Homo sapiens: one gene and its partners. The protein of the gene in region 4 interacts with the protein of the main gene of each other region in a biochemical or structural test. Each region holds a gene or a part of one and is shown on either strand. Other genes may lie near its edges. The genes, in order: NUCKS1, WDR48, DMC1 and RAD51AP1.

Region 1 (7,912 bases), on a different chromosome or scaffold from region 4:
AACTTTAACCTGAGACAACTCATTATATTAAGAAATAAATGTATGTGGGCAGTGTGCCTGCACCTGTAATCTGAGCTACTGGGGGAGCTGAAGCAGGAGGATCCCTTGAGTCCAGGAATTTGAGACCAGCCCAGGCAACATAGCAAGACTCTCATATCTCCGAAAAAGAATAAAATGGCCGGGAGGGGTGGCTCACGCCTATAATCCTAGAACTTTGGGAGGCCGAGGTGGGCAGATCACTTGAGATCAGGAGTTCAAGACCAGCCTGGCCAACATAGTGAAACCCCGTCTGTACTAAAAATACAAAAATTAGCCAGGTGTGGTGGTGTATGCCTGTAATCCCAGCTACTTGGGAGGCTGAGGCAGGAGAATCACTTGAACCCGGGAGGTGGAGTTTGCAGTGAGCTGAGATCATGTCATTGCACTCCAGCCTGGGCGACAAGAGCAAGACTCCATCTCAAAAAAAAAAAAAAAAAAAAGAAAGAAAGAAATTTAAAAAGTTAGCTAGTCACTGACGGATAACAGGATGCACAAAGCATTTAATTTCAAAGCCAAATTTGCATTTCAATTATAGTATTTGGCTGACAAGGCAAGTATGTAAACAAGAGGAAAAGTTAAAAAGAAAAAAGCCCTAATAGCTACAATATCAGCCCAGTTCTAAAGAGGGATCTTGTACCACATTGTCCACCTAACAAGTAATCTTTAATTCAAAATTCAGCGTAGTTCTTATGGGTATTTGGAATTGAATGCAAGTGTGTTCTGTGAGTATAAACATTATCTTTTATTATATATGATTGTTAAACTTTGCTTTCCACAACACTTCATAACCTTGGATGTAAACATGAGAAAAAATGCTAATTAAGAATCCTTACGCACCCAGTCCAGTGCTCCCTTAATTAATCAAACTGGTAAGTCTACTGCTTCTTGATTCCATCCTGAGGTATTAACTTTTGAACCAAGACATGTTTATCTTTTACCAACAACAGGGATGGTCACTGTTAAAGTTTCTAAATAATTTATTAGGGAAATAAGTTCCCACAAAGTCAGGCTGAACTGGGAGCTGATTAACAAAGCTGTGTAAGTTAGTGTGTTTGCTTTAAGGTATTACAAGAAGTACACAGAGCACACATCTGGGTTATAAAAGCCCTTTTATAAAGCCATTTTTAAACAAAACAAAAAAAAAGTTTACAAAAGAAAAAAAGATACAGAAAAAGAATAACTTGCTTCATATGTCCCAAAAAGAGAAAAAAATAAAGGGGACAATGCCAACATGCTCAACAATAAAGGCTTCTTTTTCTTATTTTTTTAATACAAAATACAAGCAAAGGATACACATACTTAAAACAGAGCTCAGGAGCAGACACGCAGTCCTGGAAACCCTTCAATAAAAGCAAAGCAGGAGTTTGTTTTTTCTTTGTCTATGCAGATACATACAGAGACTGGGATATGTAAAAATTAAGTATCACAAAAGACCATCACACGATTCTACCAATGCATGTTGCATCTGTAATTCACGAACATGGTCAACAAAATCATGTTCACTTCAACCCCATTTCATTTAAATTAAAGAAAAAAACCTTTTAAATAAAGTGGTTACATTCAAACTTTAACTTCCTTAGTACCATGCTGCAGATTTCAGCACTGTTAAGGTATTGCAAGAATGCCCAACCCTCTGGTGTCTGATCATGTATCTAGCAACATTGCAGTATGAAGAAAAGAGATGCCCCGGTCTCAGCCCATGGACTAGTTAATACAGTGAAGCAGGTTCCTGTCTTTTACCCTTCCTGCTCAGAACATAAAAGATTAAGGACTAAAATCAAGGAAGACTGGGAGTTTTAGAGCTGGCAAAATGAAGTCTAAAAGATAAATCAAGGCAAACAATTACTGAGAACTTGGCTGTTGCTTAACCTGGCAAGTCTAAAAGCCTTTCTTTAACCTTGTAGGAATTAGATGCATAAGGTTTGCTGCAACATGTTCATGGTAAACAAACTAAGTAGAGCTCTTATTTACAAATCTTGTAACAAATACTTCTGGAGGAAAAAGAGAAAAGAATTCACTAAGTTCCAGAAGACAAAGCTTTAATTGCCAGATGTATACAAACACACACTCACACGTACACACCCACACAATACTTCAGGGGTTTTTATACATGTTATTTTAGGGCATAAGCTGAGTACTATACCCCCACACCCCATCAAAAAAGGAACAACAAAAAAATCCCAATTTTACCCTCCCCCAATAATCTAGAAAACCCTCCCTTCACCCCTGATGTACAAAGTGTATGCACAACGGTGGCATTCTACCAGCCACACAAAGCATGCTCAAACAGATGTCACCAGTTCAGTCACTCCATTGGCATGGCAACAGGCAGGTTTACGGGATGTTTCCCAATAGTGGTTATTACACAGTCAGCACCACTGTGAATTTTGTGAATTTGAAAAAAAAAAGTGTAATTTATGGATTCAGGATTCAAAAAGAATCATTTTGTATCGAATTTACCCCAGACAAAGGGAAAACTGGTTGCGACTGAAACTTGGCTATAGATAGCTTGATGTCCCAATATTCAAACAATAAGCCAACTCTCCATTTTCAAGTAAATCCAGCTTCATCCACAGAGAAACAGACAATTTTCTAACCTCAAGAGCAACCAGCTTGTTACATTTTCCCTATCCTATGGCAGGAAATGCGTATTACTTCTGTTCTGTTTAAGCATCTCAGTCTAAATGCCATGAAGACCAGAGCCCAGGTTTCTTCCTTTTCAAATTCTTAAGGTGAAAGTTTTTTCCTTTCAGTGCAGCTACCAATGATGCAGGCAAAGAACTGTTCAAGCCAGCACTCATTCTTCAAAGCTGCAACAGTGGCCACCATGATCTTTTATAAAGCTTTCCCCGTTGCTCCTGATATTTATTTCTGCTTTTGCCTAACGCTCTCAAAGCATCTCGTAAACTGAAGTTTAAAGAAAAGCACGATTCCCATCCCCAACCAGTACTTGAAAATCCACTTATCTGAATGTTCACAGATAAAAAAGCCATTAAAAAAAAGAGTCAAGTTTAGTCTAGCTGACCATATTCACAAGTGTTAAAAACTTTACTGGAGTATAACCTCAAATTTCACTCTTGATTTGTTATCTGTAAGAAAATGCTATTTGAGCCAGTACCAAATTAAGTATTAAAATGAGGATTGAACTGGGGCAAACAGGTTATTGTGAAAACAGTCAATATGTAAGCTCCTTCAAGGGAAATCAACTACTGTTCCTCAAGATTAGAAGATGTCCACACTCTTTGCATTACCTCCCTAAAGGAGGAAACACCCATTAATTTTCCCTTATGGAATCAATATGGAGTGGAAATATGAAATGAGGAGATGTTTTAGAAAGCAGGACAAATCTACCTACCATTACTGGAATTAAAATGTATCCTCTGGGCCCACTCCATTGATTCCGATCTGAGGTGAGGAGGACTAAAAGCAGCAGCAGGTTACAGAAAGACTGAATAAGATGAAAGTATGCTACGTATGTCTAGCTGGGGAAGGGGGGATCTGGAAAAAAAATCTTAAGAACTAGAATGTAGTGTCAGTCAGCATAGCTGCTGAAATCTACGTTGTAGAGGTAAACCTAGCAGAGCTAATACAAACAAGCACCTTCAAAGTTAACGTCCCACTTCCTGAGCACTGCAAAATACGACAGTGAATGCTATTGCCATTTCACCATAGGCACACTAGAGAAAAAGAGGAAGGTTAGTCAAGGATGGTGCCAATGGCCAGTCAGTATCGGCTTACAGCTTGTAATGCGTCCTGACATCACTATCAAGCCTGACTATTGAGCACCTGTATCCAGTTGAGTCACCACCACTGTCCTCCTATTTGCATGCATGATTTGAGGGGAAGACTAGAGTGTTTTAAATCATCAATAAAAAGTGGAGAAAACAAAGGTTATTCAGAGCCTGTCTCACTTGGGGACACAGATCCTTCTGTCCAGTCTATCAGAAATATAGAATACATTTTTCAATCTAATGAATTAATTTTAAAAGGGACCCTAAACAAGAAGCCCAATCAAATGCACACAAGTAATCTAGAAGACATGATTACCTCTAAAATATGTGCATATATCACAGAGATGTTAGTGCAGATTAATATATTAAAGAGACTGTTAAACAACTGAGGCTGAAGTTTTAAAAGAGCCCTCCCCCCAAATCTTCACGAAACATAACCTAAGAAAAGCCCAAATGTTACTAGGAATGTAAGACTTAAAATTATAAACTCCTAAAAAATAGAAGTGCATGGTGGAAACACTGATAGGTCTTTTACTATATGAACACAAACTTCTTTGTTAAAAATGGATACCTGAACAAACCCATTTAGGCAAATAGATTAATCTTTAACACCCTCATTACAAAGTTCACACCTCTGAATTTAACCGTCATGAAAGAGAATGATCCAACTGCTATTTATGTTCAAGTCCTGTATTTTTGGCCATGTAACTGAAAACTCCTTATTCATTCTTTAACACACAGTGCAATAGTGAAATGACTCTGCCACTGTGTGTTTTTTAAAAAAAGATCAGAGTAAGCATGTTCCTAGTAAACCACAAAGTAGGATATTGAGGAAGCAAATCTAGATTAAAAGGCAGGAAAAAAAGGCAGAAGTTTAAATTTCACTAATTTTTCAATTTATTAGCATACCAGGACCCTTTAAACCTTGTTCCCATTAGCGCCTGGTATTAGATGTGAAGGATCAAACCTACGGATCTATCTCCTGACTGCTTTTATAAGGCGTGTAAAAGTCGGTTTTCAACTGCACACAGGCCTCCTAAAATGCCTTGTTTCTCTAGTCCCTCCTGCTTTAAGCAGCATGAGCAGTAAAGCAGGGGTTGGACCAAATAAAAAGACAAGAGCTAACTGAATTGTATGGGAGCAGCATTTAACATATTCCTAGTCAAGGACAGGATGGGAAGTAAGTGAAGAATAGGGCCAGGAAAATAGTGTCCTATAGCAGAGGTGGTTGGCACTCGGGGTAGGGTGTGCAGTGGTGCTCTACGAAGCAGCAGGATCACAGGGATGTACTTCTTATCACATTTCTATGAAGAAATGGGAAGATCGGGATATGAAAAAGAAAATGTTCTATCCCCAAATAAAAGCAGAGCATGGTTAATGGGACCTGAATGCACATTTATAGCATAAAAGAATGTCAATTCTATTTCATAAAGGAAAAATCTCAACTCTTTGTGACTGAGTTTCACATTAACTGGAACTTTATTTGCTTAAAACCTAAACATTGTCAGTTTGAAAAGAAATCCACTGTGACCTGTAGACTGATCTTGTTGATTAAATTCTAGGGTTTTTTTTTTTTTGGATTCTTGGTAAAATTTTATCCAAAAAACAGGATACATATATATTTAGAGAAGGAAATATGAAATCAAGAGTTTTGGCAGCCCCTGCTTTTTTTTTTTTTTTAGCTCCCTAAAGACTGTAGCAGGATAAAAGGATCACTGGCTCCGAGTCTCTTTGAGATAACAAGTGATGAAATAAAAAAGAAAGCCCATACCCTCAAATAAGGTCAGGTAACCCCATTGCCCACCCTCCCTACAAGGTAAAAAATGAGTACTTTTAGTAACAGTTCAGAATTCATCTTTATCTCCTACCTGCCTCATCGGTGGAAGTTTAAAGTCATGATTTTTTTTAGACATTGATACTTGTGTCTATAGACAAATAAACTCATATTAGATGACAATTGATTTTTTAAAAGTCCAGGTAGAGAAAGGAGCAATCATTTTGAACTAAAATCTTTCTATGTTTTTTGATTACTATTCAACTTGCTATTTTTTAGCAAAAAGCGAAGTTTCAATAGTGTTCATCTCAAATCTTATTGCTTTACAACCGTGGTACACCTTTCATTAAAAATAAAAAGATGAAGCAGTCAATCCAGTGATTAATTTGACATGGCTTTCATTGGGAAAGGGGAGGGCTGGCAAAGAGACCAATAGACAAAAAGGTAACTTAAACACTTACACATACAATGGTTTGCTTTAAAAAAAAAAAAAAAAAAAGAGAGAGAGAGAGAAATGTTACTTTCAACAAATGGAAAAAAGCACTGAAAGCCCATGAGTCAAGCCATAGCCAAAACCATGTTCTATCTTAAGTAGGTTCTTTTTTTTCCTCCCTCTTTTTTCTTTTTTTTTCTTTTTTTTTTTAATAAAATCTCTCCCCAGACCATCATCACTTTTAATCCTCCCCAGAAGGGGCTTCATCTTCAGACCCTTCATCCCCAGATTTCTCGGGTGGGGGGCTTGTAGATGTTTTCTTTTCTGGCGGGCTTTCCGGTTCCTCATCTTCTTCTTTGGGAGAAGGAGTCTTTTCCTTTGATGCCTTTGAAGCTGTGGGGCGACCCACTTTCCCTTTGCCTTTCACTGGACTTGGCGTCACTGAAAATAGAAAAATAATTTGGGGAAGGGAAGAGAAAAAAATGTCTTTAATAAAAGTCAGCTACAAAATACAACAATCTGTAAGAATAAAATCTATAAAGACAATATGCAACTTACTAAAAACCAAGGTGGGCACAAGGGAGCACATATATCCCTAGGTAAATCTATCTCAGTTTCTAAACTGGTCATAAGTTACTACACTATGCTACAGTATTTCCCATCAGTTTTTACCAACACTCTATGATGTTAGCAGTAATACCTGTAAAGAAGAAGCACCATGCTATAGAATATGCACAACATCCTTAATTGCTTGGTAAACTAACAGTTGTTTATGATAAAAGTTGTTTATAAAAAGCAGGTCAAAAAGACGGAAGGAAAAGAATTAATCTGATCAGAAACTAAAGCCATCAAATAACATTTGATAGTTCCATCATTCCTAACAGTAGGAAGTGATAAACAGAAGTTTAACAATGACTAGTTCTACCTAACAGAATAAAACCACCTACACAAAAAGCAAATTGATTTCTGATTTAGTTAACAAACTAGCTCCAACGAGGAGAAACCATTAGGGCTCAGAAAAAAATCAACTCATGTCATCAAGTGTGGTTTTATTCTGATAGCACAGAGGATGGGGTAGAGTTCAGAACGTGGAACTTAAACGTATTACTCTAGGTTTGTGCATTTTCACAATTAAGTCTTTGCTGGCTGCTGAGACTGTGATACCAGTGAGGAAAAAAGAGCAGTAACAACTATGATGACACAGTGTTTCTACCACTGTGTCTGAAACAAATAGATCATTCTGAAATCTTGCTCAAGTACTGGCAGTAGTTGAAGAACATGGCTAAGCCCACTAGACTCTTAAACAGGCTAGTGTCTTTATTAATAAGAGATACTTCCAGTTGCAGAATACAAGACCCTTTTAGATTTCTTGTATTCCTGCTAAACATCAGGCCAATGCCAAATCCTAATGAGGAATTTCTGTATTGAAAATAATGATTCTCAAAATTTTTAAAGCAGTAAATTTAATTTCACTTCTGCAGAAATTACCTGTAGCCTTTAGTCTGGGTTTGGGCATTTTCTTTTCTTTTCTTTCAGGTTTGGACTTCTTAACCATCTTTTTGTTTTTCTTTTTCGAACTGCCATAGTCACTATCGTCATCATCTTCCATTAGGAAATCTTCATCGCTGCCGGAATCTTCTGAGAAGAAAGAAGAATTTCAACATCTAACTTAATGTACACATCCTTCCAAGTAAAAAAGGAAGAGAGTGCTAAGAATGACTAGAGGATGGGATTTGGGAGTCAAACACCCTTGGATTCTATTTGGAGCTGTACTACCAATTTGACTGGAGTCATCACTGGCCTCATTTGTCAAATGGATTTTGCATGCACCTTACATGAGAGAGTTACATGAGTGATGTGTTTGAAAAGTAGATTGAAAACAGGAAGGGTAAGAGTTAATCTGAATAAAAACTGAAACTATCAAATAACTTTTGG
Region 2 (8,051 bases), on a different chromosome or scaffold from region 4:
CGAATAACATAGGAAACCTGACAAATGTGTCAACATATGCTTTTTATAAAGTACAAGCCATGCAGTAATAAAATATAGTCTACTAGTGGCCAATCTGAAACAGAAAATCCCATGTTTTCCAATATGTACTTTTTCAACCCAATACAAATTTAAATTTTACTCCTTAAAGACTAAAGGGCTGAAGAGAAGGATGGTATCAATGATAGCCTAGTCCAACATGAGTAAGTTGCTAAACTACTATAACTGCTTCCTGACTGGACTCCTTTCCCAGTCTTTAGTCCATTTTTCACAAAGCAGCTAGAGTAATTATTTAAAAATCTATCTCAGCTCTGCTCAAAAACCTCCAGTTGCTGACTACTAGACTCATGATTGGATGTAAATTCCTTAACATGGTCTCAAGTACCCTGTTTGTCTTTCTGGCCACTCATCTCTGCTCCAGGTTCTGGTGCATTGTGCCTCCAGACCATCACACATGCTGGTCCTCTCTGTTTGGAAGCTCTTCCTCCGACCTGTCTGGCTAACTCTTGTTGCAGCCTTCAGGTTTCCATTTAAACAATACTTCCTTTAGAAGGCCTTCCCTGACTTGCCAAGCAAAATGAGGTTTTGAGCTCCTATCACATACTAAACTTTTTCTTCAGGGCATTTTCCCCTACTTTGTTACTGTTGGTGACCTCTGTCTGTTCCTTGTGAAAACAGGGGATCAACTGAAAACAATTACACCTAAGAAAAAGTCAATAAGCTGGCTGGCAGCCAGAAGTAAAACTTTCTAATGTAATGAAATAAACAGTTAAAAATTAACTCAAGATGGACTAAAGACTTAAATGTTAAGACTTAAAACCATAAAAACCCTAGAAGAAAACCTAGGCAATACAATTCAGGACACAGGCATGGGCAAAGACTTCATGACTAAAACACCAAAAGCAATGGCAACAAAAGCCAAAATTGACAAATGAGATCTAATTAAACTAAAGAGCTTATGCACAGCAAAAGAAACTATCATCAGAGTGAACAGGCAACCTACAGAATGGGAGAAAATTTTTGCAATCTACCCATCTGACAAAGGGCTAATATACAGAATCTACAAAGAACTTAAACAAATGTACAACAACAACAACAACAAAAACAACCCCATCAAAAAGTGGGCAAAGGATATGAACAGACACTTCTCAAAAGAAGACATTTCTGCAGCAGACACAAGAAAAAATGCTCATCATCACTGGCCATCAGAGAAATGCAAATCAAAACCACAATGAGATACCATCTCATGCCAGTTAGAGTGGCAGTCATTAAAAAGTCAGGAAACAACAGATGCTGGAGAGGATGTGGAGAAATAGGAATGCTTTTACACTGTTGGTGGGAGTGTAAAGTAGTTCAACCACTGTGGAAGACAGTGTGGCGATTCCTCAAGAATCTACAACTAGAAATACCATTTGACCCGGCCATCCCATTACTGAGTATATACCCAAAGGATTATAAATCATTCTACTATAAAGAAACATGCCCACGTATGTTTATTGCAGCACTATTCACAATAGCAAAGACTTGGAACCAACCCAAATGTCCATCAATGATAGACTGAATTAAGAAAATGTGGCACATATACACCATGGAATACTATGCAGCCATAAAAAAGGATGAGTTCATGTCCTTTGCAGGGACATGGATGAAGCCAGAAACCATCATTCTCAGCAAACTATCACAAGGACAGAAAACCAAACACCACATGTTCTCACTCGTAAGTGGGAGCTGAACAATGAGAACACATGGACACAGGGCAGGGAACATCACACACTGGGGCATGTTGGGGGGTAGGGGGCTGGGGGAGGGATAGCATTAGGAGAAATACCTAATGTAAATAACAAGTTGATGGGTGCAACAAACCAACATGGCACATGTATACTTATGTAACAAACCTGCACGTTGTGCACATGTACCCTAGAACTTGAAGTATAATAATTAAAAAAAATTATCTCAAGTACCTATAGTGATTCTATTAGGAACAATTATACCCTTTCTCCACATCTTAAACCAAAAACGAATTTTTCTATGAATTAAAGACTGAAATTTAATAACCATAAAAATAATTTTTGTTTTTATTTTTTGAGAGAATCTTGCTCTGTCACCCAGGCTGGAAAGCAGTGGCCCGATCTTGGCTTACTACATCCTCTACCTCCCAGGTTCAAGCAATTCTCGTGCCTCAGCCTCCTGAGTAGCTGGGATTACAGGCATATGCCACTGTGCCCAGCTGATTTTTGCATTTTTAGTAGAGATGGTGGTTTCACCATGTTGGCCAGGCTGGGTTTCAAGTGGTCCACCCGCCTCAGCCTCCCAAAGTGCTGGGATTACAGGCGTGAGCCACTGCACCTGGCCAGCATAAAAATAATTTTTAAAAGACAGGTGAATATTTACATAGTCCCTTGCCAGAGAAAACTCTTCCAACATGCCAAGAAAGATGGTAATCTTTACGAAGGAAAAGAGCAATGGTGATCTGGCCAAATACAAGTCAAAACCTTTTCTATGTACAAGAATGTTCACAGCATTGTGGCATTCACAATAATGTTACAAAAGTGGAAACAACCCAAATATCCATCAATGGACAAAACAAATAAAATGTGATGTGTGTGTGTGCATATATATATATATATATGCACACACACACACTGTACTGACACATGCTATAACGTGGATGAACCTTGAAAATGTGCTAAGTGAAAGAAGCCACATATTTTACAAAAGGCCACATATTTTATGACTCTATTTATATATAATGTCTAGGATAGACAAATCCACACAGAAAGTAGATTAGTAATTGCCAGGAGATTGAAGGAGGGAAAAATGAAAAACGGGGAGTAATTGCTAATGAACATAGAGTAATTAAACATTCTGGAGTTAGGTGACCAATAAACAACTTTCCGAATATACAAAAAAATCACTGAATTGTACACTTTGAAAGGGTGCACTTTATGGTATGTGAATTTTATCACAATGTTATTATTTTCTTAAACCTTCTGAATGTCAAAAAGTAACACGAGCAAGACTAAGAGAATAATGAAATAAATATGAAAGAAAGTTTACTCTTAACAAGATTCCTTATAAAATAAGAAAAAGTCAAATTTACCAACAGAAAGAGGGACAGTTACAAAAAGGGACTTTTTAAAAAAGAAATGGCCAAAAACCCCATAAATAATCAAAGACAAAATTAATATGAGATTATTTTACCTATAATACAAGAATTTTTTAAAATAACTGCCATTTTTGTTTCCCCTGAGGATAAATAAACACTTTCTGACAAAAGTTTTAAACTCTTTGAAATGTTCTTTAAAATTCAATTTCCAGAAATTTGTCCTTTAAAAAGGGCCAGGGCTGCAGACACAAATAGCTACAAGGATGTTGTTTTAACCCAGTCTTTTGGATGCAATTAACTGTAACTGAGATCTACTCAAACCAGCTTTTGTTTGTTTGTTTGTTTTTTAAAGGAGACTTCAACACAAGGATATCTTAACAGAGCCCAAGGTCAGGAAATACAGTCATCATTTATAAGAGGCATTTAAAAAATCAAATCATGACACTTCTCTGCTGAAACTTTCCAATGGCTTTTCACAAAATTTAAAGTTCAAACTCCTCAAATGCTTAGTTCTGACCCTGCATCCCCCACTCATTTCAAACTGACTGCCCCCAGCTTCTTTTATGACAGTCATTCCAAACTCCTTTCTGTTACCGTAAACACATCAAGCTCTTTCCCATCCCAGTACCTTCTCATTTACTGTTGCCAGTGTCATGAAGATTCACCACCCCTCGAATCCCTATAGGAATACTCTTTCTCCAGCTTTCATCTTGTCTAACTCACCCTTACTCTTCAGATCTTAGGAGAAAGGTCTCCTTGGAAAGGCCTTTCTGATCTCATTCTCCTCAGGGTTATGACCCTATCTATCTTACATTACTTATTTAACAGTTCTTACCACATTCTGTATTTTTTTTTTTTTTTTTTTTTTGAGACGGAGTCTCACTGTATCGCCCAGGCTGGAGTGCAGTGGTGCGATCTTGGCTCACTGCAACCTCTGCTGCCCAGGTTCAAGCAATTCTCCCAACTCAGGCTCCCGAGTAGCTTAGATTACAGGTGCCTGCTATGGCGCCCAGCTAATTTTTGTATTTTTAGTAGAGACAGGGTTTCGCCATCTTGGCCAGGCTGGTCTTAAACTCCTGACCTTCTGATCCACCCACCTTGGCCTCCCAAAATGCTGGGATTACAGGTGTGAGCCACCGCGCCCAGCCACATTTATATTTTTTGGTGTATCTTCTCCATTAGAATAATAGCTCCAAGAAGGCAAGGGACTTGTCTGCCTTGTTCCTTCCACCCCTGTGCCCCCATTATAGTGTCTGGCATATAAAAGACATACGTATCATTGCATGAATTGGCTTTCCAAAGCCACCAGGAACCAAGCTAGCTTCAATGTCAACTTCAGCCTCTCTCAATCTCTCTTTCTCTGGGGTTCCAGGGCTGCTTACCTAGCTCACATTTCCTTTAACTGAGACTGTGCAGCATATCTAAATCTTGATATCCAGACTTCTGGGAGATTATCTGACTGGTTAAGGCAAGAGTGAAAGAATAACCTGAATGTCAGAATTCTCATTCTAGGTGGAAAGTAATTACTGTTAAAACCAGTCTGGGCCAACCTCTTCAACGGTATTTCCTAAAGACGTGTGCTTTAAAATGCAAAAGAATTAGAAGTATCCTAGTTGGATAAATTCTAGCACGCACATCTGTAAAACACAACACTATTCAATCACTTAAAATGTTGATGTAGGCCAGGTGTGGTGGCTCATGCCTGTAATCTCTGTGCTTTAGGAGGCTGAGGTGGGAAGACTGCTTGAGCCCAGGAGCTTGAGGCTGCAGTGAGCTATGATGGCACCACTGTACTACAACCTGGGCAACAGCATGAGAGCCCTGTTTCTAAAGAATAAGAAAGAGTTGATGGAGGTCTAGACTGATAAACATGGGCGGAAAGCCATGATATATTTTTAGTGAAATATGTGTGGTCCAACACAACAATGTACAATAGTCATTATTATAAAAATGTTTCAAAATATTAAATATTTCAGAACAAATACACAAGTTTTGAAGACTATACATATATAAAAATAACCAGGGGCCAGGCGCAGTGGCTCATGCCTGTAATCCCAGCTTTGGGAGGCCAAGGCGGGCAGATCACGAGGTCAGGAGATCAAGACCATCCTGGCCAACATGGTGAAACCCCGTCTCTACTAAAAATACAAAAATTAGACGGGTGTGGTGGTGCGCACCTGTAGTCCCAGCTAGTCAGGAGGCTGAGGCAGGAGAATCACTTGAACCCAGGAAGCAGAGGTTGCAGTGAGCCATGACGGTGCCACTGCACTCCAGCCTTAAGACAGAGTGAGACAATGTCTCAAAAAAATAAAAATAAAAATAAAATAAAATAACCAGCAGTTATTTCTGAATGATGGGATTATGGTGATTTTTCACTCATTCATGTCTCTTTCATGTGTTCTGAATGTTTTACAAACAACATGTATTACTTAGTTTTTAAAATTTGATCATTTGTTATCCAAGTAATTCCTGCTTGTATTTAGAAAATCAAATAGTAATGACTGTAATGAAAAACAGTCTCTCTACTGTCTGGATAAGACTCCCACACCTAGTCTTCATCCCTAAAGGTAACTAATTGCAACTCAGTTGTTGCTACTGGATAGTTAACTGCATTTCTCTAAATATTGTGCTTATCCTATAACTTTTTGGCTCATCCATTTTAGACATTATCGATTTACTCATGCTACTGTAGATTAGGATGTAGTTCTGAAACTACCCTCAATATCTCCTCCCTCTACTCTTCTAATATAGATACATCCCTATTTTTAATTGAACAAATAATCCGTGCTATATTGTTGTGACTGTAAGGCTATCTACTAAGTACTATATTATGAATACATTTCCTTCCTCAAAGAGCTTTTTGTTTTCCCTAGAGTTTTAATTTTTCCTTCTTCAATGGTTTTCTCCACTTTAATTTCAATTTTAATTGCTGTACCACAGAACTCACCCCCACCCCTTTATTTTCTCAGAAGGCTTCCCCCTCCAAACCCTCCTTCTTCTCATTACAATCTAGGCTGACTGCCCTCTAGATCTGCTGGCACAGCTGTCACCTTTGGTGTTTTCCTTTACTGCTTTTCTGGGTTACAGCCATTGTTTCCTGAATTCTAATGCCTCCTTCTTTCTTTGTTCACTCCATAGTTTTGCTGAAATACATCCCCAATACCTTAAGAAAGTAATATAAGAAAAGGCACATGGGTTGGCAACTTAGTCCTTGCATGCCTGAAAAGGTCTTTCCTCCACATTTACACTTGATTTAGCAATTCTCTCAGCTCTTGAAAGCATTGCTGTAAGTTCCTCTAGCATCCAATGTTGCCACTGATTTCAATGCCATTCTGTTTCATACAGCTTTAAAGGGATCCTATTTTCATTCTTTCCTCCACTCCCTCGTCATCTCCTTCCCTAAGCTTTCAGGATTTTCTCTTTTTCCTTGGTGTTGTGACATTTCTTGTTTGTTTTTTCTATCATTAGTTTTTCTGTGCATTTAGAAAGCCCCTTCGATCTAGAAATTTGCGGCACTTAAGCTCCGGGAAATTTTCTTGTATCCATTATTAATCATCATCTCTGTTTTCTTTGCTCTTTCTTGAACTCAAATGAGTCAGATACTGGAACTTTCAAACTGATCCCTCATCTTTTATGCATTCTGTATTATCTATCTTTGTCCTTTCATTTATTTTTGTAACACTTCCTTTACTATTTTATAACTGGAGGTTTTTTCAAAGCAAATTATAGTATGATGGAAAAAAAATCAAAGCAATATCTTCAATAAGGAAATGGCTAGACAAATTATGGTACATCCATTCTATGTGGTCATTAAAGAACGAAAACTATATATGCTGATATGTTTCAAGACATGTCACCTTAAAAACTTGTTATCTGCATCCATTAAAGTACAGAGAAAAAATTTAAAATGTCTGGCTATAGAAAAATAGAGGAAAATGGATTTAATTCTTTCAACGAATATTAACTAGGCACCCACTTGTTGCCTGGCACTATTCTAAATGCTGAGGATACGGTAGTGAGCACAAAAGTCCTCTTGGCATTTAGCTGGGGAAAGAGCTTAACTAGAAGTGGCAGCAAGTTAAGCGAAGTATTTTTTTTCCCCAAGCACTGTGAAGCACTGAAGGAAGAGGCCATAACAGGAGGAAAAATGGAGGCACAGAGAGCCAATCAACAGACTCAGGTTGCTGGAAAATCATACCACCAAGGGACTGCTAAGGATGGAAAAGACTTGCTTTGATATCCTGGTTACCAGAGAAAATGCTACATCATGTATCTGAATTCACATATTTGATTATGTTTCTGACAGTCACAAATCCATCCCTCTTCCCTCGTATCTCTAGTTTTCCTAGAAGTTGAAGATGGTAGGACATGGACTCATTTAAAATTATGTCTACAATTAATATGCAGTATGTTTGGACCCCTCTCCACTGATTTTAAGTATCATTTTATTTTATTTTTGAGATGGAGTCTCGCTCTGTCACCCAGGCTGGAGTGCACTGGTACAATCTCGGCCCACTGCAACCTCCGCCTCCTGGGTTCAAGCGATTCCCCTGTCTCAGCCTCCCAAGTACCTGGGATTACAGGCATGCGCCACCATGCCGGCAATTTTTATATTTTTAGTAGAGACGGGATTTCGCCATGTTGGCCAGGCTGGTCTCGAACTCCTGACCTCAAGTGATCTGCCCACCTTGGCCTCCCAAAGTGCTGGGATTACAGGCATGAGCCACCACGCCTGGCCTCCACTGATTATTTAGCAATATTTTTAAGTCTCAAGGGTTTGTCTTGGCCTACAACTTGACAAGGAGCTCAGGGCTACTGTCTCGTGGTCTGAGACAGTCAGGAGACAAAGTATATTTACTCCAAGTACCCATGTATGCTTTTTCCAAGATGAGAAGTTTTCTTTTTGATGTATAAGAGCAAATAATGT
Region 3 (7,787 bases), on a different chromosome or scaffold from region 4:
GTTTTCAAAAGGTAAAAGGAAGAAAAAAAGCTCCTATTTCCCAGTATCCTGCATTGTGAACAATTTCTACTTGCCGAGTTAGTCTCTGTTTTCTTTCCATATCCCAGCTCCTATACCTTTGCAGTCTCTCAGCTTAACCTTTCCCCTCCCATTTTTGGAATTTTACTTTTTTTTTTTTTTTTGAGACGGAGTCTCGCTCTGTCACCCAGGCTGGAGTGCAGTGGCATGATCTCAGCTCACTGCAACCTCCGCCTCCTGGGTTCATGAGATTTTCCTGCCTCAGCCTCCTGAGTAGCTGGGATTACAGACGTGCGTCATCGCGCCCAGTTAATTTCATATTTTTAGTAGAGATGGGGTTTCACTGTGTTGGCCAGGCTGGTCTCGAATTCCTGACCTCAAGTGATCCACCCACCTCGGCCTCTCAAAGTGCTGGGATTACTGGCGTGAGCTACCGCACCCAGCAGAATTTTACTTTTTCTTTAAGGGTCAATCCAAGATTACACTGCTTATGAATTAATTATATAATCATTTGCTCTCTTGTTTTCCTAAATATTAGTCTTTTCTCTTAACTAGTGTACACATGCTTTATGTGTAGGAACCACATTTTCCTTGTTTATTCTTTAGCGCTTAGCATTAATAATAATTAGTGAGTGAATAATTTCATGAATAATCAAATACCTTTTGTAACAAATGGTACTTCGAATACTTGAATTTTCTTCTCTTTCCTTCTTTTTTTTTTTGAGACAGAGTCTCACTCTGTGACCCAGGCTGGAGTGCAGTGGCTCTATCTTGGCTCAATGCAACCTCCACCTCCTGGGCTCCAGCAATCCTCCCACTTCAGCTTCCTGAGTAGCTGGGACCTCAGGCACACACCAGCACGCCTGGCTAATTTTTTTGTATTTTTGTAGAGACGGGGTTTTGCCATATTGCCCAGGCTGGTCTTCAAACTCCTGGGCTCAAGCAATTCACTCGCCTTGGCCTCCCAAAGAGCTGGGATTATAGGTGTGAGCCACCACGCCCAGCCCTGGAATTTTCATGTAAGTTGATGTAACATTAAAGTCTATAAAGATTGAAGTCTATAAAGCTCTTCATTGTATATTGTCATTAGTATATTAATTTTTACATATTTTCACCATACATGCATTTTGAAAACAGGATTTTATTTGTTTAACAATCAAAATAATATCTTTTACACATTTCTAAGATTAGTATTCAGAAATTTTACATTTAAATTAATTTTAACATTTTAAAAAAGTTTTTTTTTTTTTTTTGAGACGGAGTCTCACTCTGTCACCTAGGCTGGAGTGCAGTGGTGCCATCTTGGCTCACCGCAATCTCTGCCTCCTGGGTTCAAGCAATTCTCCTGCCTCAGCCTCCAGAGTAGCTGGGATTACAAGCACATGCCACTGCACTTGGCTAATTTTTGTATTTTTAGTAGAGATGGGGTTTCTCCATGTTGGCCAGGCTGGTCTTGAACTCCTGACCTCAAGTGATCCACCTGCCTCGGCCTCCCAAAGTGCTGGGATTACAGGTGTGAGCCACCACGCCCAGCCATAAATACATTTTTTAAAAGTAATTTCTGCTTGTCAAAGTCAAATGATTTAAAATTTGGCTTAATTTAATGTCTGTTTTCTGTTGCTATAAAGGTGAATATGCAGTTTGATATTATAAATAGAAAGAGCTTTTGTGTGTGTGTCCTATAAACATTCCTCCCTTAAATCCTCTTGTGGAAAAACATCTAGCTATGTAAGTCAGTGGCACTATACCCTAGAAAAATGGTGAAGGGAAAGTCCTTAGGAGAATGGGACATTTCTGAACTCTTAGACTTTCTGTTTAGTGGCTCACTTTGAAAAGTGAAAGGGAGGGAATCACGTACTCCTTTCCCAACAACTAGTTTTCCATAGGTATATATACATACACAGAGTGAGAGAATTTCAATAGGTATATATATCTACTATATATGTCAGGTATACACACACAAACACACACACACACAAACATACATATACATATCCCTGAATTTACATACAATGTATAGTTATCATAAATCAGGGACTTTTAAGATAAATATAAGATTTAAATCTCTTTGCTGACTTTTCTTTAGTAACATGTGGGAAAAAACCTCTATTTCAAGATGTGAAATTGGAGACTGCTTTTCCATTTCTTCAGCTCCTAATAAGCACTAAGAAGCAATTTGCATCAATTCACCACCTACTCCTTGGCATCCCCAATTCCTCCAGCAGTTATTGCGAAGGTGGCTTCATTTTCAGGCATCTCAGGACTAACAGAATACAAGGGAACAGAAGTTTATAAAAAGCTCTATTTCTATAAATACTATATTCATGTCACAGGCATTATGTGCCCATCAGTCTGAATCTCCAGAGACATCTCAGAGTTGGTACAACCAAATGTGGCCTACAGAACTTACCCACAAGTATTATTAACCCTCACAAACATTTATTGAGCAACTTCTATATATAAAGTTCTGAATGTCAAGAAAAATTACTCCAAACTTGGAAACAGGTGAAAGGATAACTGGATGTTCTTTCATTTATTTATTTTAATTTTTTTTTTTTGGCGAAGTCTTGCTCTTGTCCCCCAGGCAATGGTGAGATCTCGTCTCACTGCAACCTCTGCCTCCTGGGTTCAAGCCATTCTCCTGCCTCAGCCTCCTGAGTAGCTGGGATTACAGGTGCCTGCCACCACGCCCGGCTAATTTTTGTATTTTTAGTAGAGACGGGGTTTCACCATGTTGGCCAGGCTGGTCTTGAACTCCTGACCTCAGGTGATCCGCCTGCCTCGGCCTCCCAAAGTACTGGGATTACAGGCGTGAGCCACTGCGCCTGGCCAACTGGATGTTCTTTTAGTATAGTGTCAGGCATTGTATAGCAGCCCCTTAGAGGTTTATCTGATTCTATAGGGGTATGCACCTTTCTTATGACTAGACTAATGTAGGAGCAAACTGTAAAATACTTTGAAATAAATTAAAAGATTACTGAGTACCTTCCATGGAAACATAGGTTGTCTAGCACATCCTCCCAGGTTATCCAATTCTTTTTTGTTTTTTGTTTTTGTTTTTTTTTTTTGAGACGGAGTCTCACTCTGTCGCCCGGGCTGGAGTGCAGTGGCGCGATCTCGGCTAGTCTCAAACTTCTGGCCTCAGGTGATCCGCCCACCTCGGCCTCCCAAAAGTGCTAGGATTACAGGTGTGAGCCACTGTGCCGGGCCAAAATCTGTAATTCTTAATTAAACACGTAAAGTGCTGAGAAAGAATATAGGGTATAATATACTGAGTAGCCTAGACTGTAAGGGTTAGGGAAAGGTTCCCTGAGAAAGTGATGTTTAAACTGAAACCTGAAAAACAAATAGAGTTAACCTGGCAAAAAGAAAGGAGGATATGTTCCCATACTTGATACTTACCTTGTATTTAACACAATTTAATTGGAATTGATGATTTCATTATCTAGGTGTATGCTTTGAAAGGTCAGGGACCAAGTCTATGTGTCAATAGAATCCCTCAATCCCTAGTACCTAGTAACAGTAGGGACTTCCCAATAAATTGAATAATTTTTTAGAAAGAAATTCAAACACACAGCATCTGGCAGTAATAATTACAGCCTTGTGGTGGCTCACACCTATAGTCCCAGCACTTTGGGAGCCCAAGGTGGGAGGATTGCTTGAGCCTAGGAGTTTGAGACCAGCTCGGGCAACATGGCAAAACCCCGTCTCTACACACACACACACACACACACACACACACACACACACACACACACACACAAAATAAAAAAAAATTTACCTGTCATAAATCTTGGCAATTCTGAGCTCTCCTCTTCCCTTTCGCAAGCTTATTCTTGTTGTTGAAGCATGAGCCAGAATGTGTCCCCCAATGGGTTTTTTGGGATCTGCCTGAAAGCTGAATTAATAAAATACTCTTTCAGGTTTCATCATATGGACTATATATGGCAATATCTGCAATTACAAGGCAATCTTTCTGTGGTGGATGTCAGGAGTTGGAATAAGTGTATATTCTAAACAAGCAGAGGCTTGTTCATAAACTAAGGAGTGAGGTGAGTTTTGGAGCTGCTATATACCCCATCTAGTCTAGGCTTTTGAGATTCCTATGATAAATAGTTTATATTTTGTTTGACTTTTTTTTTTTGAGATGGAGTCTAGCTGTGTCGCCCAGGCTGGAGTGCAGTGGTGTGATCTCACTCACTGCAACCTCTGCCTCCTGGGTTCAAGCGATTCTCCTGTCTCAGCCTCCCAGGTAGCTGGGATTACAGGTGCCCACCACCACGCCCAGCTAATTTTTTGTATTTTTAGTAGAGATGAGGTTTCACTGTGTTGGCCAGGCTGGTCTCGAACTCCTGACCTCATGATCTGCCCGCCTGGGCCTCCCAAAGTGCTGGGGTTACAAGCACGAGCCACTGTGCCCAGCCTGACTTTAAAAAATGAGATTACTGGCTGGGCTCGGTGGCTCGTGCCTGTAATCCCAGCACTTTGGGAGGTCGAGGTGGGTGGATCACTGAGGTCAGAAGTTCGAGACTAGCCTGGCCAACATGGCAAAAACCCATCTCTACTAAAAATACAAAAATTAGCCAGGTGTGGTGGCGTGTGCCTGATGCTTGTAATCCCAGCTACTCTGGAGGCTGAGGCAAGAGAATTGTTTGAACCCAAGAGGTGGAGGCTGCAGTTAGCTGAGATCAGCCACTGCATTCCAGCCTGGGCAACAGAATAAGACTCCTTCTCAAAAAACAAACAAACAAAAACAGAAAGAAAAAAAGAAAATGTGGGCTTAGAAATCATCAATAAGGGAACAGCACAAACTAAAGGTTATACTTGATCAAAATAAACTATGATATAGAATAATAGCTTCAGTTCTGAAAGAATATAGTTACAAGTCAATTCAAGTTGTGCTTGCTCCATTAAAGTGTTCATGATTCTGGTTTTACTCTAAGCTTCAGGCTTGGTATAGCAAGGATGTAGCTGATTGGCATGAGGTTAAATATATTTAGACTGTAGGTTGGTCGGGATAAGAAGCTCTTTGGTAAAGGAGTTTGCTGAGATAAACTGCTACTTGATTAAATGGCTCAGAGGTTAGGACCAGAAGACCCCTGGTTGGTGCTGAATAGGATTAAGATTCAGTAGAAACTGGACACTATGGCACATATCTGTAGTCCCAGCTACTTGAGAGGCTGAAGCAGGAGGACCACTTGAGCCCAGGAATTCAGAGGCTAGCCTGGGCACCATAGTGAGGCCCTCTTAAAAACATTTTTAAAAAAATGTTTTAAATGCAAATGCAGCAGGTCCAACATAGGAACAAGGACAAAGAGTTAGTTTTGGAGTGAACCACTATCAAGAAAGTAGTAGCCAGACAGTTGAGACTAACGGCGGCAGTTAAGAAGTCAGAAAGCTGGGTTGCTTTGCCAGGCACCTGACATGGTAGTAAAGCAATAAAGCCTTCTCAGTTGGATAAAATAGCTAGATAAGTGAGTTGTCTCTATAATGCTTACAGATCGATGCCACTTAACTTTTCAGGTCACCCTACCTTACAGGTGGTTCTTCATGGTTTTAAAATAATCTTATGTTCTATATAGATGGGCTGCTTGAGACCCTGAGGATATTCTCAACTGAGCTATGAACTCCGAGCCTGCAAACACTGTATTTATGCTTCTGTAATGTACTTTTCATGTTCTGCCTTTAGTACTATTATTTATTTACTTATTGTATTCCTTCTCAATTCCTCTCTTATTCTCTATCACTAAGCTCCTTAAGGGCAGACTATATTGTGTTTAGTTCTGCACAACCAGGCACACAGTGGGTGTTCAAAATTGTTTTTTCAGCTACGTGGGAGGCTGAGGCAGGAGAATCGCTTGAACTCGGAAGGCGGAGGCTGCAGTGAGCTGAGATTGCGCCACTGTACTCTAGCCTGGGTGACAGAGTGGGACTCTGTCTCAGAAAAAAAAAAATAGTTTTTTCAGCTTAAGATATTTATGCTACAACAATTCCAAGGGGAATATTGGACTGCAAAAAGATTGGTGTTTTCACAGAAGTTAAGAAAAAATAAAATTGAGACCAGTTGGAAATTTCTATCAAAAGGAGCTAAGAACGGATAGTCAAGGTTAGCTAAATGGGCAGAGAGAAGTCTGAACACAATGCTACTGCTTCTCCCAGCTAGTCTCTCAATGCTGCTCATTCTCCTGTGTGAGCATGGTTGGCTTTACTGCCTCACCTTCAGTAGTCTCCTTAAGCCCCCTTTTCCATTCTTATCCCCTCACCTTGGATGACATTGCCTGCTACTTTATAAAGAAAATAAGGGCTTGGCCGGGCACAGTGGCTCATGCCTGTAATCCCAGCACTTTGGGAGGCTGAGGCAGGCAGATTGCAAGGTCAGGAGTTTGAGACCAGCCTGGCCAATATGGTGAAACCTTGTCTCTACTAAAAATACAAAAATTAGCTGGGTGTGGTGGCGTGCACCTGCAGTCCCAGCTACTCAGGAAGCTGAGGCAGAAGAATCACTTGAACCCAGGAGGCAGAGGTTGCAGTGAGCTGATCGCGCCACCGGTGGCCCTCCAGCCCAGGCGACAGAGCGAGATTCCGTCTCAAAAAAATAAAATAAAACAAAATAAAATAAAATAAAACTAATAAATAAAAAAGAAAATAAGGGCTCTCAGGAGGACACTTCCTCAACTTCTTCTTTCTGTCCACCACCTATATACTTAACTACAGTTGTACTCATGTTTTCTCCTTCCCTCTAAAACTTCCTTTTTTCTGATTTCAGAAAGTCTTCTTATCCTTGATGACTTTGCACACATTACTCCCTCTGAAATGAAAGCTCCTTTCCCCACCGTGTCTGCTCATTCAGCTCCTACACAGCCTTCAAGTGTCCTCCCTTCTAGGAACCCTTGCCTGGTTCCCTGAAACAGTAGAAAACTGGCCCCCTCTGTGCTTTCCAACAGTCTGTATTCTTTTATTAAAGCACACTACAGGTGGGCGCAGTAGCACTTTGGGAGGCCGAGGCGGGCGGATCACCTGAGGTCAGGGGTTCAAGATCAGCCTGACCAACATGGAGAAACCCCGTCTCTACTAAAAATACAAAATTAGCCGGGTGTGGTGGCACATGCCCGTAATCCCAGCTACTCAGGAGGCGGAGGCAGGAGAATCGCTTGAACCTGGGAGGCAGAGGTTGTGGTGAGCTGAGATCGCACCATTGCACTCCAGCCTGGGCAACAAGAGCCAGACTACGTCTCAAAATAAATAAATAAATTAATTAATTAATTAAGCACACTACATGGTAATTTTAAATGTATGGGTCTTATTCCCCAACTATACTCTAAATATCTGTTCATCTTTGAAACTCCAGCGCCTGGAAAAGTGCCTATAATATACAGGGTACTCCATAAATATTGCAGAATGAATACAGAGATGACAATTTGGGACTCCCTGGTCTAGGTCCTTCTTGGACACAGATTTGTGTCATATCTTCAAAACTGTAATTCAGGGAACTTTTGAAGAGTGTTCTGACAGAGGCAAATATAAAAGAAGATAGATTCCCCCAGTTGAAGCACCATGCCTCCCATGCCATTATAGATAACCTAAACAAGACTGGGAAGCTAGAGCTTCTAGATGTATAGCCATGATTTTTTTTTCTTAGCAAACTATTGTTTGCTGTTACTAGTGTGGTACCCAATGTGCAAAAAAGAATAGAGACAATTGCTTGTCATTACTGTAGGTGAAGAGCCTGAATGTTAAGAACATTATTTCCAAAAGGAGATGATTTTGAA
Region 4 (8,051 bases):
ATCACATTGGCGCTCAAAGAGTGTCTTTGCATTTTCCTGTCTCCCAGGCCCTCCCAAAGTAAAACAAATGCAAAACAGTCTTTTTTCATGTATTTCCGTTGTTCCAGAAGGACAGGAGCTGTTTGTTTTTTTCACTATTGTATCCCTAGTATCTAGAATATAATGCACATAAAAAGCATTCAAATATTAGTCGAATAAGTGACGATGAGCAAATCTGTTATTGTTTGTTGATAGTATATCAAAATCTAAAATATGGTATCTTGATTTGGCCTACATTTATGAATTTATGAATTTAAATTTTTAATTAATATGTTATAATGTTCTGTCAAGGTCACTACACTTTCCATTTGCCCAATTTCTAAATGAGTCTAAAAACCATCATAATAAAATATAGATTTCATATCACTTCTGCCTCAGAATAATTCATGGATTTCTACTACCTCCAGGAAAAAAAAGCCTACACTTCTTCCAGTGGGTCTGAGACCCTCCCTGATTAGTACCAGCCTCCCTCTCGAGCCTCTTCCATGTTCATCCCAGCAAGCCTCAGTTAGAGACAAATAGAGCATTTGTCTATTCCACAGGTAATGCCTTTCTGTTAGTCAGAAATGCTACTTTACACCTTTAGTTTGTTGAAACGCTACTCATTTTTCAAGGCATAGCTTAAAGGTTAACTCGTAGAAAAAACTTTTTCCCCAAATGCTATCACTGAATTGAACTGTTCTGTGTGTCCCTGAAGTTTGCACACCCCAAAGGTTTAACACAGTGCTTTGCACAATTAATAGCTTCCAAGAACTTTTTTGACTGAATTCCCATAGAATTAATTTCGAAGTAGAATAAAACCTACCAGGTGCAAAGTCTGGTTCAGTGTCATTAGCACTATCACCATCACTGCCTTCCAGAAGAATCTTCCTCTGCTGTGCTGCAGCTTTAGATGCTGCTTTTCTTTTCCCTTGAACACCACCAACATCATCTTCCACAGTAATCTTATCCAAATCTTCAGGAGAGGCATAAAAATCAATGGAAAACTTTCTGTGACAACTGATATTTCAAGAACTGCAGACCAGACTCTATTACAGCTATTGTTTTTATTTGCCCAGGTTCATCCCTCCCATGCTTCCAGTAATAGACTATTAGCCCAATCTGGGTCAACCATGGTACATCAGTGCCCTGGGAACACCTCTAGTTTTAGGGATAAATCCAAGACCCAAACAGAGATAATCTTTCCCCCAAAATTTTCAAACTAGAATTGGGAATATGCAGCCCCTTTCTTCAAAGGTCAGTTGCTCCAACTAGAAGCCACGGGTAGTTATGACCCTTCAGGGAAGAATGTGTGTCTGCAGTACGACAGAATGAGACTAAAACACAAAGAAATAAAGGCCATGACATCAAGAGAGTCTTGACAAATTTAAAGAACTTGCTTCTAGCCACAATTTCAGCAATTTAAACAAAAGTCAGAGAAACAGCATTGTTGATGAGAAAAATTATTAATATAAAAAACTTACCTAAATAATCACTGGCTACACTGCAATTAGAGATATGAGGAGACTTATTCATTGTTTCTATTTTACTACTGCCATGTTTTTCAATGCCTAAATATAAGGAATAAGAAAGAAAATTCAGATATATCTTAATCAATGTCTAGATATAGGAAAATTAGTACTAAAATGTAATAGCATTTAGATATAAATAAATGATCCCAAACTCCAACTGGCACAATAATTTTATTCAGAGAGGTTAACATATGGTTAGAAGTCTGGGCTCTGAAATCTAACATGTTTAAATTCAGGCTCTACCATGTAAACTGGCTATATGACCATGGGCAAGTTGCTTATCCTAAGACTGAATTTCCTCATCTATAATGTGGAGATAAAAATAGTGTCTTACCCAGTGGTATTACAGAAGACCAAATGTGGATCTCACATAGGAATTGCTTATTATTGTGCCTAATATACAGGAAATGGTCAATAAACTATCAATTCTGTGTAGGCAAATCCATGCTTTTACTAACGTTAAGAACTCTCCAATCGTTATAATAACCTTAAAATGACCCAAAGCATTCTAAGAGGACTTTAAGACATAATAATTGGTACTATTAAATTCCAATGCTATAAGGTGCATTATTTAATAAGAAATGGTATAATATTAATACTTCTAAGGAACTCCCCTTATACATTCTACAATGTCTTAAAAGAGAGAGATGAATTTCAGTGCCTCCATTTTAAATGTAATTCATGATAATTCTCTTTTGATGTTTCTTTGATTCTTGGTTACTAAAAGTCTTCCTAATCAAACTTTCATTTCTTTTTAAAGAGGAGGCAGCCAGATAAGGTGGCTCTCGCCTGTAATCCCAGCACTTTGGGAGGCTGAGGCAGGAGGATTGCTTGAGGCTGGGAGTTTGAGGGCAGCATGCGCAACATAGTGAGACCCCTCTCTACAAAATAAAAAATTAGCCAGGCATGGCGGCACATGCCTGTAGTCCCGGCTACTCAGGAGGCTGAGGCAGGAGGACTGCTTGAGCCTAGGAGGTCAAGGTTGTATTGAGCCATGATCATGCCACTGTATTCCTGCCTGGATGACAGAGAGAGACCCTGTCTCAAATAAATAAATAAATAAGGAGGCAGTACTGATTTAAGAAACAAAGAAAAAAGCTCCATGTATACCCCTAAATAAGATAATAAGCTAAAATATCCCCCAACATAAAAACTTTAAGCCAAAAAGCATTTTAGCAGTAGAGTATCTTTTTCAGGAATAATGATTTCTGCCTCTCTAGAATATTAATATATTGCCAGAAAAATCAAAGGAGAAAATCAACAGAGAAATCCAAAAGCCATTCTCTTAAGTCTACTGAACTTGCTAACCAAATTAATACCTTTGACCTTTGTAAGTAATAAAAATTACCATAATTAGGGTATGTTTAACTGATCTGGAAAAAATGGAGATGGATTGTTAGGACTGTACAGATCAAATCATTTGATGAAGAAATTAAATGTTCACTGTACAACAACATATAATTCGAACACTGAGGCTCACAGTCCGTGCCCTCAAGCTTATTCTGGGTGTTAAGCAGAGATGTATGTCTGTTTGTATGAGATTTAGGCAGCTGAATTAAGAACTAAATCCAATCGTATTCTCTGCAAATGGGTCTATTTATAGTGCAAAGTATTCACATTTTACCTGTTTCCTCTGTGAAGGCCCACCCAAACAAATAATCACAAAAGCATTAAGAAGGTTTTAAAGCTAAATATACAGAAAATAAAGTTACTTTTATCTTGAGAGTTCTGCACATTAGTGGTGACTGTTGGAAGTTCCTTCACTGATAAAGCTAGTGCAACTTCTAAGTCTCTCTGGTAGAGCTTGTCATCTAAAGCCATCCTAAAATAGATACACAAGTAATAATGAGTTCTTCAAAATATCAATCTCAACTAAAGAGCAAAGTTTGAGATTTCTCCAAATTACTATTCAAGAGTTGCTAACTTCGCAAAAATGTTTTTAAACAATCATCATTAATAGACCTTTGATGATAAGATAAGACTCCTAAAATGTCACAGTATCATGTTACATACAGAATAAGAGGTTTGAAATAGGAGGACCATGTGCCTCTTTGCAATGACTGTTCCCTTTCATTGTAATGTGTCACCTTACTACCAGCTGTGTCCAGGTGGGAAACACCCTACTCAACCCAAAACAGACTTGGTTCAAACATCACTTCCACTTAAAACTCTTCCTTGACCTCACCCACTCCCCTTTAGCAGATTTTATAGCTCTTACATTAAATTAAAATTATTATCATTTTTTTACATCTCTTCCTCCCAATCCAGACTTTAACAAATATTTTACCAAGCACTTACTTTGTACAAGGCACTGCACTAGCTGGAATACTAAAAGTACCTTCAGGGAGTCTGCAATTAAAGGAGGAGGGTGGGGAAACAAGACATGCTAATAATTATCCTATAAAAGGCAGACTATAAAGTCCTATTCAAGCTGCTCAAAAGTGCTATGGAGTATAAGAGGAAGAAAACGTCAAAGACAGATAAGGAAAAGTTACATAAAGGAAGAAGCACTGAGATGTACCTTAAAGAATTTATTTTTTTAGAATAACAGTTTTCTTAAGATATAATTCACATATCATAAAGTTTACCTTTTAAAGTAAACAATTCAGCAGTTTTTAGTACATTCACAGAGCTGTAAAACCACCAACACTACCTAATTTCAGAACATCTTTATTACCCCAAAAAGAAACCCCATACCCATTAGCATTCACTTCCTGTTTACCCCTCTCCCCTCCTAGCAACCATTAATCTGCTTTCCGTTTCTATGGATTTGCCTATTCTGGACATTTCATGCAAATGAAATCATGTAATATGTGACCTGTATATCTGGCTTCTTTCACTCAGAATGATGTTTCCAAGGTTCATCCATATTGCAGTATATATCAGTTATCAGTTGTCATTTCTTTCTATGGCTGAAAAATATTCCATTTTGTGGAAACCACATTTTACTTATCCATTCATTAGCAGATAGACATTTAGATTGCCTCCATTTTTTTTTAGCTATTATGAATAATGTTGCTGTGAACATTCATGTATGGGTTTTTGTGTGGGCATATGTTTTCATTTCTCTTGGATACATACATAGGCTGGGTCATGTAATAACTCTGTTTAACATTTTGAGGAACTGCTAAACCATTTTCCAATTTAGCTGCACCATTTTACTTTCCCACCAGCAATATATGAGGGTTCAAATTTCTCCACATTCCTTGTCTTTTGTATTAAGTCATCTAGTGGGTGTGAAGTATTATCTCATTCTGATTTTGATTTGCATTGCCCTCACAGCTAATGATATTGAGCATCTTTTCATGTGTTTATTGGTTATTTGTTTATCTTCTCTGGAGAAAGTCTATTGAAATCTTTTGCACATTTTAAATTGTGTTGTTAGTCTTTTTACTGTTGAGTTTTACGAGTTCTGTGTATACTCTGGATACAGTCCCTTATCAGTTATCTGATTTACAAATATTTTCTCCCACGTGTGGGTTCCTTTTTCTATATATTTAAAATGTAATACAAGAAACTCACAAACAAAAACCAAAAAAAAGAAAAGCAAAAAAGAGCATGACATGAGGTAAGTTTCTCCAGGCTAACTCACTTTTCATAGAGAAACTTGTGGCAGTAAAACATTATATATGCCATGTTCCATTTGTTAATATTCCCCTTCCGCCCATCTCTTCTCCATACTGCAAGTTTTGGGTCTCTAAGGACTTCCTTCACTCCTTTCTGCCTCTTGATACTATCTAATGGAATTCCACGGTTAGTCTAGAAACTATGGGAACTTCTCACTGCTGGATAAATCTTAACAACATGGGGAGAAGACATCTTTTTCTGCAAGAAAATACATGGTTTTATATTTTAAAAACTGTCCTCATATTAAGTCATCTTGTGTCTTAATCATCTTAAGTCATCTAATGTCATTTTTAACAAAGTAGTCTCGTATGATTTGAGGAATTCAGAGATAAGTGCTGGGTCCTGTCAAAACCAGTCATAACTTCTGAATTCTACAATCATTATTGTCTTAATATTTAATGATACTTCCTTGAATGTTTGTGAATTTCTTTAAGTCAGAAAGCCAGAAAAAAATAGTACGTCCTGTTTTCTGACTGCACCTAGTAAAATAAGACCTATGACTCTGCCCAAGTTCTAATTTAAATCAAGGGTTCGAATCTGTGTCTCTTTAAAATTAACACATCTAATGTCATATATTTACTGCATGTCTTACCTCTCACCTTTTTTTAGGGGTTTTCTCTTGTACTGGGATTTCTTCTTTCCGGAGATTGTTCAAGTTAGGTTTTGGTTTATCTTGTTTTAACTCCTTTGGTGCTGTTCTGGATTTCTTGTTTAAAGGTACAGTTGCAGAAACAAAATCATCTATTCATGTGTGAATTAAAACCAAAAGAAAAATATTATTTTCTTCATAAATGAAAATCATTACCATGTGTGTTCAAGTTTTTATAGGCTAGGCAAATTGTTTAATTTCCACAATTTAAAAATCATTGTTAGTATTTTGTTTATCTTTACTCTCATTTATCTATTTCGACTTTTGTTTTTGTGCCCTTTATATTTAAAAATATCAGTCTATCAAAAACCAATTCACTAAAAACTGCAAAAGCAATTAAGACAGCATATAAGTGTCAAAGAAAAAATGATTAAAAACCTGTAAAACCATTAGAAAAATTGGTAGAATTTAATCACATTGAAAAGTGGAAATAAATTATTTTTATGGGAACTTCACAATGTAGCCAAATATCTTTTTTCAAAGCCCATTACTTGGGCCAGGCACAGTGGCTCACACTTGTAATCCCAGCACTTTGGGAGGCCAAGGCGGGCAGATCACCTGAAGTCACGAGTTCAAGACCAGCCTGGCCAAAGTGGTGAAACCCTGTCTCTACTAAAAAATACAAAAATTAGCCAGGCATGGTGGCGGACACCTATAATCCCAGCTACTCAGGAGGTGAGGTGGGAGAATCGCTTGAACCTGGGAGGCAGAGGTTGCAGTGAGCCAAGATCGCGCTGTTGCACTCTAGCCTAGGTGCAAGAGTGAGACTCCGTCTCAAAAAAAAGAGAAAAAAAAGCCCATTACCTATTCCTAGTACATTAACCATGCTAGAGGAAATAAGCATTATGGGGGGAAGAGAAAGTAGCTCCTATTTGAGGATTTTTACAATAGTAGTATTTTCTCTTTCCATTACCATAATGATCTTCCTAAGATCCTACCAAAGTAACTTCTTATTTTCTTGCAAAAGGATGTTCTTTTCCAGTCCATTACTGTTTCTCACAGGTTTTTCTGTCTTACCAATCCTCTGAACTGTTGTAGTTCTACTCTTGACTGTCAACGTAAAACTACTGCTGTGGCTTTTCCACATGTATACAACACATATATGCATACTTTCAGGGTCTATGCAGTCTTCATCACATACTCAGCAAGCACTAATACTTGTTGTCTCTTATATGCTTCCCCATGTAAAAATAAGATAACTTAGGACTCCCCCCACCTACTACTACACACCTGGCAATTTATAAGTATCTGATGACAGACTGATGACAAAAAAAAAAAAAAAGCTAGATGTTATACTCTACACTCTTTTTCCCAAGTGGTAGATACAGTTAAGGCTGTGCTCAAGGCAAAAACAGATTCCTTCAAACCGAAGACTTACTAAATATTTGACTTACAGAAAACTCTAGTGGTCTAAGAAAGAAATATTAAATCCACTTCAACATATAACATAATCTAATGCAATGTTCCTCAAACTTTTCAATCATAGCAGAGTCAAGTAAACATATGACTAATGCTTAAAAGGCATAACATAAGCCTAACCTTTCTTCAAGGTCTTGTTTTATAGTACAATTAATAGGGATTTTATATAATATGCTGTAACATCTTTGTATCTCAAAAAGACAGTGTTTTCCTTCTTCAGGGATGGAATAGGAGACAAACCTCTATGTTGCAACTATGGACTTTAGAGTAGTTTAGATCTAAAGAGACTTTTCACCTGGCCTGTTCATTTATCACCTACTAACATAATTTTTATCAGTATAATTATCAGCATAATTATCCCAAATGATTAGAAAACTATCTTTCCAGACCTACCTCATATGCATTTGGGCAATTTAGTCAGTGTTTGAGCTATATATGTCATATAAATTCCGAGGAAATGAGTTTCCAAATCTTTAGAACAAAAATAAGAAGCTTTACTTACCATCACTGTCAGAGTGGTCAAACTGTGAGTAATTGACTGGTTTCTTATGTCTATGACCAAAACAGAATTTTTTCATTAACACAAATGTCAATTTCTCACCACTATTACTTAAGGCTATTAATGAATATTATTTATTTATTTAATATTATTCATTTATTAATAAATAATGAATAAACGAAATAAATAAAAATGTGTTAAATGAAATGTGTTTCAATAAATGAAAATGTGTTTGGGTTCAAGTAAGAATATTTAACTCTAAAACATGATTTGCATTTTACCGCGGGGATTTATCATTAGCTAAAAT

Evidence for each region.
Region 1: the proteins of RAD51AP1 (region 4) and NUCKS1 form a complex in vitro, tested with the Homo sapiens proteins (one study listed by BioGRID).
Region 2: the proteins of RAD51AP1 (region 4) and WDR48 form a complex in vitro, tested with the Homo sapiens proteins (one study listed by BioGRID).
Region 3: the proteins of RAD51AP1 (region 4) and DMC1 form a complex in vitro, tested with the Homo sapiens proteins (2 studies listed by BioGRID and IntAct).

Annotation. Positions count from the first base shown.
Region 1 is NC_000001.11:205,712,062-205,719,973, forward strand, and holds the end of NUCKS1 (nuclear ubiquitous casein and cyclin-dependent kinase substrate 1), read right to left. Parts: intron 7,616-7,912; coding exon 7,466-7,615; intron 6,419-7,465; coding exon 6,219-6,418; 3' UTR 761-6,218; downstream 1-760.
Region 2 is NC_000003.12:39,055,016-39,063,066, reverse strand, and holds part of WDR48 (WD repeat-containing protein 48), read right to left. Parts: intron 18-8,051; coding exon 1-17. UniProt on the Homo sapiens protein: Regulator of deubiquitinating complexes, which acts as a strong activator of USP1, USP12 and USP46. Enhances the USP1-mediated deubiquitination of FANCD2; USP1 being almost inactive by itself.
Region 3 is NC_000022.11:38,517,809-38,525,595, forward strand, and holds the end of DMC1 (meiotic recombination protein DMC1/LIM15 homolog), read right to left. Parts: intron 3,917-7,787; coding exon 3,800-3,916; intron 2,282-3,799; coding exon 2,212-2,281; 3' UTR 1,140-2,211; downstream 1-1,139. UniProt on the Homo sapiens protein: Participates in meiotic recombination, specifically in homologous strand assimilation, which is required for the resolution of meiotic double-strand breaks.
Region 4 is NC_000012.12:4,541,630-4,549,680, reverse strand, and holds part of RAD51AP1 (RAD51-associated protein 1), read right to left. Parts: intron 7,798-8,051; coding exon 7,748-7,797; intron 5,919-7,747; coding exon 5,777-5,918; exon of another isoform or gene 5,770-5,776; intron 4,463-5,769; exon of another isoform or gene 4,416-4,462; coding exon of another isoform or gene 4,369-4,415; intron 3,900-4,368; coding exon of another isoform or gene 3,849-3,899; intron 3,373-3,848; coding exon 3,263-3,372; intron 1,590-3,262; coding exon 1,503-1,589; intron 995-1,502; coding exon 845-994; intron 1-844. UniProt on the Homo sapiens protein: Structure-specific DNA-binding protein involved in DNA repair by promoting RAD51-mediated homologous recombination.